Linked DNA regions of Homo sapiens. The protein of the gene in region 2 purifies or fractionates together with the protein of the main gene of each other region. This does not show direct contact. Each region holds a gene or a part of one and is shown on either strand. Other genes may lie near its edges.

Evidence for each region. Proteins that work in one complex are often made in the same cells at the same time.
Region 1: the proteins of H1-7 (region 2) and ZNF317 purify together in Homo sapiens (affinity purification with mass spectrometry; one large-scale study listed by BioGRID and IntAct). This does not show direct contact.

What each region holds. Positions count from the first base shown.
Region 1 is NC_000019.10:9,139,132-9,143,196, forward strand, and holds the start of ZNF317 (zinc finger protein 317), read left to right. Parts: upstream 1-1,265; 5' UTR 1,266-1,461; intron 1,462-4,065. UniProt on the Homo sapiens protein: May function as a transcription factor. May play an important role in erythroid maturation and lymphoid proliferation.
Region 2 is NC_000012.12:48,327,597-48,330,779, forward strand, and holds H1-7 (testis-specific H1 histone), read left to right. Parts: upstream 1-1,383; 5' UTR 1,384-1,695; coding exon 1,696-2,463; 3' UTR 2,464-2,683; downstream 2,684-3,183. UniProt on the Homo sapiens protein: Essential for normal spermatogenesis and male fertility. Required for proper cell restructuring and DNA condensation during the elongation phase of spermiogenesis.

The sequences.
Region 1 (4,065 bases), on a different chromosome or scaffold from region 2:
TGTATATATTATGTATTATGAAATATATATTACGTTATGTAATATAGATTATATATTATATATGAATATCTTATATCCATATATATTCCATACATACATTTTATATGTGTGTGTATATATATATATACGCACCATGGTCCATCCCCTCAATAATATATTTTCCAAAACCTCAAATTTCCTTCTCTCTGTCTTTTATAATACCTGCCCTGGATAATACTAACCATCTGTCTCTCCTGCCTATATAATTCTGCCCCTACTGGTTACATGGGAAGCCTTGGTTTCCTAAAGTGTTGAGATTACAGGTGTGAGCCACTGTACCCAGCCTGATTCTGGAATTTTGTATATGCAGACTCCTCCTGCTAAAATAATATATATTATATATAATATATATTCCATAATATATATAACATACATACATATATTATTTTAGCATATATTATATAATATACGGTAATAATACACATAATACATAATTATAATAAATATGATATAATATATATTCCATTGTATAAAACATATAATATATATAACGGAATATTATTCAACCTTGAAATAGAAGGAGGTCCTGACATTTATCACAAGATGGGTGGACCTGGAGGACATTACGCTAAGTGAAATAAGCCAGACACAAAAAGAAAAATATTGCATGACGTCACTTACATGAGGAACTTTTTTTAATCAAGAGAGACAGCTCAAATACACAGAAATAAAGAATGAGGCAGTTGGGGAAGAAAATGGGAAGATGTGGGTCAAAAAATACAAAATAGCAGATATGCAGGATGAACACCACACAGGTGATGGTGATTTTACGCCCTTCCCAAGGTGTCATTCAGAGGCACGTGGTCTCCATCTGACCCTCACTGGTGATATTGATTTGATCACCTGGTCCAGATGTTGTCCAATTTCTTCGCTGTACAATTTCTATTACTTTTTCTCCATTCCAACATACGAGCAGTTTATAGAGAGGCATTTAAGGCAATTCAAATATTCTGCTCGTCATGCAAATGTCCCCCAGTTGTGTCATGTAGATGACAATTCTTGCCTGATTCAACCTTTACCACTACGATGGCTACAAAATGCTGTGGGTTGTGGTTGAAAATTTGAGTCTTGAGTAGAAATTGGAGAAATATGCTGGACCGTCAGATTCCACCGGGGCACGGCCGCCATGCCAATCCAAACTTCAAAACTACAATTCCCAGCATCCTCTCCGCCCCGCTTCCGTATTAGACGCCGCCAATGAAGTCCCGCGAGAATTGGAAGGCGGCAGTGAAGCGGAAGCCATTACTCTCTGGAGTCGATTGCCCCGAGACACATGGGCCAAGGAGGGGTCAGCGGCGAATTCTTTCGGCCTGTTGGGGACCCCTCGTGTCCCCACGCCAGACTGGACCTCCCGTATGAACTTCTCTTCGCATCGGCGGCGGCTTCCGTCACCTCCGCTCCCCCGATCCTATTCCCAGTCGTGTAAGCCCTGCTTTCCTTAACCCTTCTCCCCCTCAGTTCCAGGGGTCACGGGAGGCCTATCTGGCGGTGAGGACTAAGAGGGTACGAGGGTCGGGGGCTAAAGAGCTAGGCATCCAGACGAGGGGTGCGTTTAGATCTCGCGATCAGCGATATGAAAAGCTGGGGACGCGAAGGATAAAATTGGACCATTGCAGCTAGTGATGAGAGAAGCATTGGTCACCTGATCCTGAAAAGCCCTAAGTCTCTGGTGGGGGCGGAAAAGCCCGGCTGAAGTGAATTCAAGAGTTTGGGGGCAGTTCAGGAGATTGGGGGGCGTCAGGATTTGGACATCGCGAGGAGAAATCACCTTCTTTCTGCGCTGTAGTCAATTTTATCTCGTGAATGTCAGCACATTGGTGTTCTTATTAGCACTTACCTTGAGTACCTTTTATATTTTTAATTTAAGACCTTCTGGTTGCACTTTTTTATTTATTTTAATTTTAGTGGACTCTTGTAAATAGCCTATATGTATATTTACTATTCAGTTCAACATTTTGTTAATTAACTTGAGTTAGTCCAGTTATACTTATCGTGATTATTAATATTTTCCATTGAATTTTACCGTCTTATTTTGTGGTGTGTCCTTTCCTATGCACATATTTTAACACTGGAAAATAGGACATACATGCAAAAAAAGTATGATTACACACACACGCAGACTTACACACACTTAAAAGGACAACAGTAAAGCGAATTTACAAACCAGGCCAAGAAAGAGATTATTAAATCTCAGAAAGCTGTGTGCCTCTTCTAAACTGCATCCTCCTCTCCCACCAATACTGTCTCCGTGGATTTGACTGCGTATACATCTTTTCCAGAAAATATATTTCCTAAATTTTGGTAATTATTTGTGAATGAACTCAGGCGCTTCAGTATTTTTGGAAACAATCTTTTTCTGTATTGATTCAAGCACACCTTTGTAATTTAGAGATTTCTAAATATCTTGTAGATGAAGTACTTACACCTAGCCATTCTTTTTCAGGAATGTCATGGCTTAAATTCTAGTCAGTTCACCAAATTCCACATACTGGACTTTTGTTTTCAAGTTGTGGTGAATCTATATTTGAACTTTGGGAATATTGTCGTTTTTATGCCATTGAGTTGCAGTTAATTGATTTACATCATTTATTTACATCTTCTTTAATGCCTTTCAATAAAGTGTTTTTTGTTGTTGTTGTTGTTTTTTCCTTTTTGAGATGGAGTCTCACCCTTGTAGCCCAGACTGGAGTGCAATGACAATCTCGGCTCACTGCAACCTCTGTCTCCCTGGTTCAAGCGGTTCTCCTGCCTCAGCCTCCCGAGTAGCTGGGAATACAGGCACCCACCACCACACCCAGCTAAATTTTGTATTTTTAGTGGAGATGGGGTTTCAACATGTTGGCCAGGCTGGTCTCGATCTCCTGACCTCAGGTGATCCACCGGCCTTGGCCTCCCAAAGTGCTGGGATTGCAGGAGAGAGCCACGATGTCCGGCTCAGTAAAGTTTTATAAGTACCTGCAAAAAGGATTTAGGTTGTTTTTGTTATATTTATTCTTGGGAACTTTGTTTTTTGGTGCTCAGAAAAGTCTAACTTTTGTGTAGTTTGTTGGATGTTCTTCGTAGACAAGGAAAATGTGTACAATTCAAAAGGAAAATACAAATATTTATTTTATACAGACGATAAATTGTCTTTTTTGTTTGTTTGTTTGTTTGTTTGTTTTTTGTGCTGGACTGGGTGGGGACTTCCCTTGTCATTGACTGGAGTTTGGATGGCACACTCTAGGCAAGCCTGTTTGTTTTCTGATCTTAAAGGGAATTGTCATTTGTGTCTGCCGAAGGCTTTTCTGTCGAATAGTTTTTATTAGGTCAAGGAAGCTCCCCTCTTTTCCTACTTGAGTTTTTCTTGTGAATTGCTGCAGGCTTTTAACAAGTGATTTTTTTTTTTTTTTTGCCATTATGTATCTGTTTATTGATACATTTTGTATCTGTTTGATACAAAATCTATATTGATAGTTTTGTATCTGTTTATTGATACATTTCTAGTACCTTAAATTATGGCACTCAGTACTGCTGTGTAACAAATTAATGAGTGAATAATATAATTTTTTTTCTATCCTGTAGTGTGGCAAATTAAACCAATTGATTTTCTCTTGTTACATTGAATTTGTATTGGTAAATAATTTGGAAAGGACATGTTACTATTTGTTACTTTTGGCTTCGGTTTGCTAATACTTTGTTTGGTGTTTTTGGATCTATGCTTGAGTGAAATGTTCCTTTTCTGTTTCAGATTTATGCCAGCCTCATAAAATGGGATGAGAAGTGTTCTGTTTTCTAAACTCTGGAATGTTTTGCATAAGAATAGAATATTTTGTTCCTTAGAACGGGAGTGGTACCTGGAAAAACCATTTGGGTCTGGAGTTTTCTTTGTGGAAAGTTTTAAAGCTATTGTTTCTGTTCTTTTAAGGTTTGTGGGGCATTCAGGTTTTCTGTGTTGTTATGATGAGTAAAATTTCTTTAGGAATTTATTTATTCCATCTGAGGTTTAAATCGTATAGTCAGGGTTGTTCATAACATACTCAAATTTTT
Region 2 (3,183 bases):
GAGGGTGAGACACAGGAATTGCTTGAACCCAGGAGGTGGAGGTTACAGTGAGCCAAGATTGTGCCATTACATAGCCTGGGCTGAGCAAGACTCTGTCTCAAAAAAAAAAAAAAAAAGCACTGGTCTAAGCTACTTCCTGGAGCTTTGATTTTTAAAAGAAACTGTCACTGTCTAGCCTGTGACTGATGAATGTATGTGATTGCCCTCTGGAAAAGTATGATATGCTTGGCAATTTGAAGTATTCTTAGAATAATACTTTAAATTATTCCCAACTAAACTGTGTCCAAAATAGGTCCTTGATAAGCTAATCCTTACTTGGCCCCCTTCATTTCCAACCCTTTGAAATTCACTCTGCTCCTTTCTCCTGATCTTCTGGAAGTTTCTTTCTGAATCTAGAGAAACTCTCCTCACCAGAGAGGAATGATGTAAGCAGGCTCAATTAAATGCCCGCTGTGTATAATGAAGCATATTGTTAGGTGCAGCATGGGACATAGAAGTTCAAAGACTATAGCTCTTGAGGATATCTTTATTTAGTTGGAAATACAAGACAGAAACATTCAAAGTAAAGTAAATTTATTCCTTATATTTAGGTAGCCCTTGTTCATCTACCTCTTCTGAAATTTTGCAATAATTCTGTGATGTTGGTAGGAAGGGAATGTGATGTTAGATAAGAAGTCAGATGGCCGGCACATCCATCTGACAGCCACACCACTGATATTAAGGGATTTGTTAATGTCATATGGCTCCTAAAGAGCTAGGATATGCATCCATATCTTCCAGCTCCAAGTACGAGTTTTTTTCTTTTTAAAAAATATTGTGTCACATTATACCCTCTAATGCCAAATTCATTTAAAATAAAGAAAAAGCCATATAAGATTGCAGAAGTAATTTTGGTGGTTGTGGTAGTTAAGAGGCAAGAAATCATTTGAAAGAGTTTGGGGAGTCTTCAGTGAAGAAGGATAATGTAGCAGTACCTTGAAAGATGAGCAGGACTTATCTGGGCAGACAAAGAGGATGAGAAATCCAAGAGAGGGGATGAGATGGAAAAAAACACAGTATGTTCAAAGAATAATGATTAGACCAGTATCCTCAGGCGATGTGAAATCTAGATTGTTTCAGTACAGTTGAATGCGTCATCTAAATTTCCCAGGTGTGGGAATCAGTGTTTAGGGTAGAGGGATCACACAATTGGTTCCTTTTTTACTTCATGCTCTTGCACAGAATCCACTGTGTAGAATTAGGGAGACATGACTTCAGATACCTGACTGGTGGAATTAAAGGTGGGAGTTTCTAATCTGGGTTGTGTTTCATGGACTACCCCGTGTACTTTCTACAGGCAGTGTGTTGCTTGTTTTGGATAGTTGGGAGCAGCTTCGCTCACCTTAAGGAACTGTGGGTAGATGGTTTGCAGGACCACATACACACACAAAATAGCCGACTAAAGAAAGCGGTGGAGATCGAGATCAGTAAGTTTGATTTGGGAACAAAACCCTGGAGACTCTATAGGTAGGTGACTGTTGGGGGTGGACAGGCGCTGAAGACTTGGATTGGTTTAGACCTAGAAGGAAGTGGCATTTGATTGGTTATTATAAGTGAAAAGGGCCCCTCCCCGGGTGAGATATGCCAGCCCCATAATTAGGACCTGAAAATCTCTGCCAGGCCTGCCTTTGTGACGTGGCCCAGTCTACCTCAGCTATGGAACAGGCCTTGACTGGTGAGGCCCAAAGCCGGTGGCCCCGCAGAGGCGGGAGTGGGGCCATGGCTGAGGCGCCTGGGCCCAGTGGCGAATCCCGAGGACACTCAGCCACTCAGCTGCCAGCGGAAAAAACTGTCGGGGGACCATCGAGGGGCTGCTCAAGCTCCGTGCTCAGAGTGTCCCAGTTGGTGCTCCAGGCCATCTCCACTCACAAAGGGCTGACTCTGGCAGCTCTCAAGAAGGAGCTCCGAAACGCCGGCTACGAAGTGCGCAGGAAGAGCGGCCGCCACGAAGCGCCCAGGGGGCAGGCCAAGGCCACGCTCCTCCGGGTCAGCGGCAGCGACGCCGCCGGCTACTTCAGGGTCTGGAAGGTTCCCAAGCCCAGGAGAAAGCCGGGACGCGCGAGGCAAGAGGAGGGCACGCGCGCTCCCTGGAGGACCCCAGCCGCGCCCCGGAGCTCCCGGAGGCGCCGCCAGCCCCTTCGCAAGGCGGCCAGGAAGGCCAGAGAAGTGTGGAGACGGAACGCGAGGGCGAAAGCCAAGGCCAATGCCAGGGCGAGGAGGACCAGGAGGGCAAGGCCGAGAGCCAAGGAGCCGCCGTGTGCCAGAGCCAAGGAGGAAGCGGGAGCGACAGCGGCAGACGAGGGGCGAGGACAGGCCGTGAAGGAAGACACCACGCCGAGGTCAGGGAAGGACAAGAGGCGAAGCTCCAAGCCCAGGGAAGAGAAGCAGGAGCCCAAGAAGCCCGCACAGCGGACCATCCAGTAGCCAACGCGGGCTAAAACCGACCGGACATCTAGCGGGCAGGGGAAGACTCCACTAAAGACTTCCACAAAGACCTCCCCTAAATCTGAAGGTCTTCCTGATCCAGTTGGGAATGCATCTTGTGGGAGCAGCTTCACTCCCACCACGGACCAATGCCTTTCCCCCATAGGCCCCAAGAAGAGCGGCTGTCACACTCATTGAAATGAAATGGACCTCTAGACCACCTTGTGTCTGTTTCCTCTTTGCCGCACCTGGAAGGGAAGGGGTGGGTGGTGGTAACGTTCAGTGAAGACAGTAAATTAGCTGAGATTCTGTTCCTGCTGCAGAACTCAGAGAAATGTCTTTTAGAAGGAGAGAAAACAGAGGAAAACCAGCAGCTTAACAAGTGTTGAAGTATTGTTAGATACTCTAGCAAATCCAAATTGAGTTCTGGGGAGGAAGGCATGTTGGGAAAAGAGTAGACAGTCTTTAAGTTGAGTGGTCCCACTGATTCAAAGTGTTCTTACCTGAAATTCCTTTTAGGACAAAGTCCTCCCAAAATTGATTATAATGAGTTTGTAGTTTTTGCCTTGAATTGATAACCTATTTTAATTTAAAAGATATTCTTATGTCAATCCTCAGTTAAATAAGTGTATGAAAGCATCCAGCATAGGGCCTGGCATAGGATAGGTACTCATCACTGAGAGTTAAATATGTGTATAATTAATTCCCGATGGAGTGGTA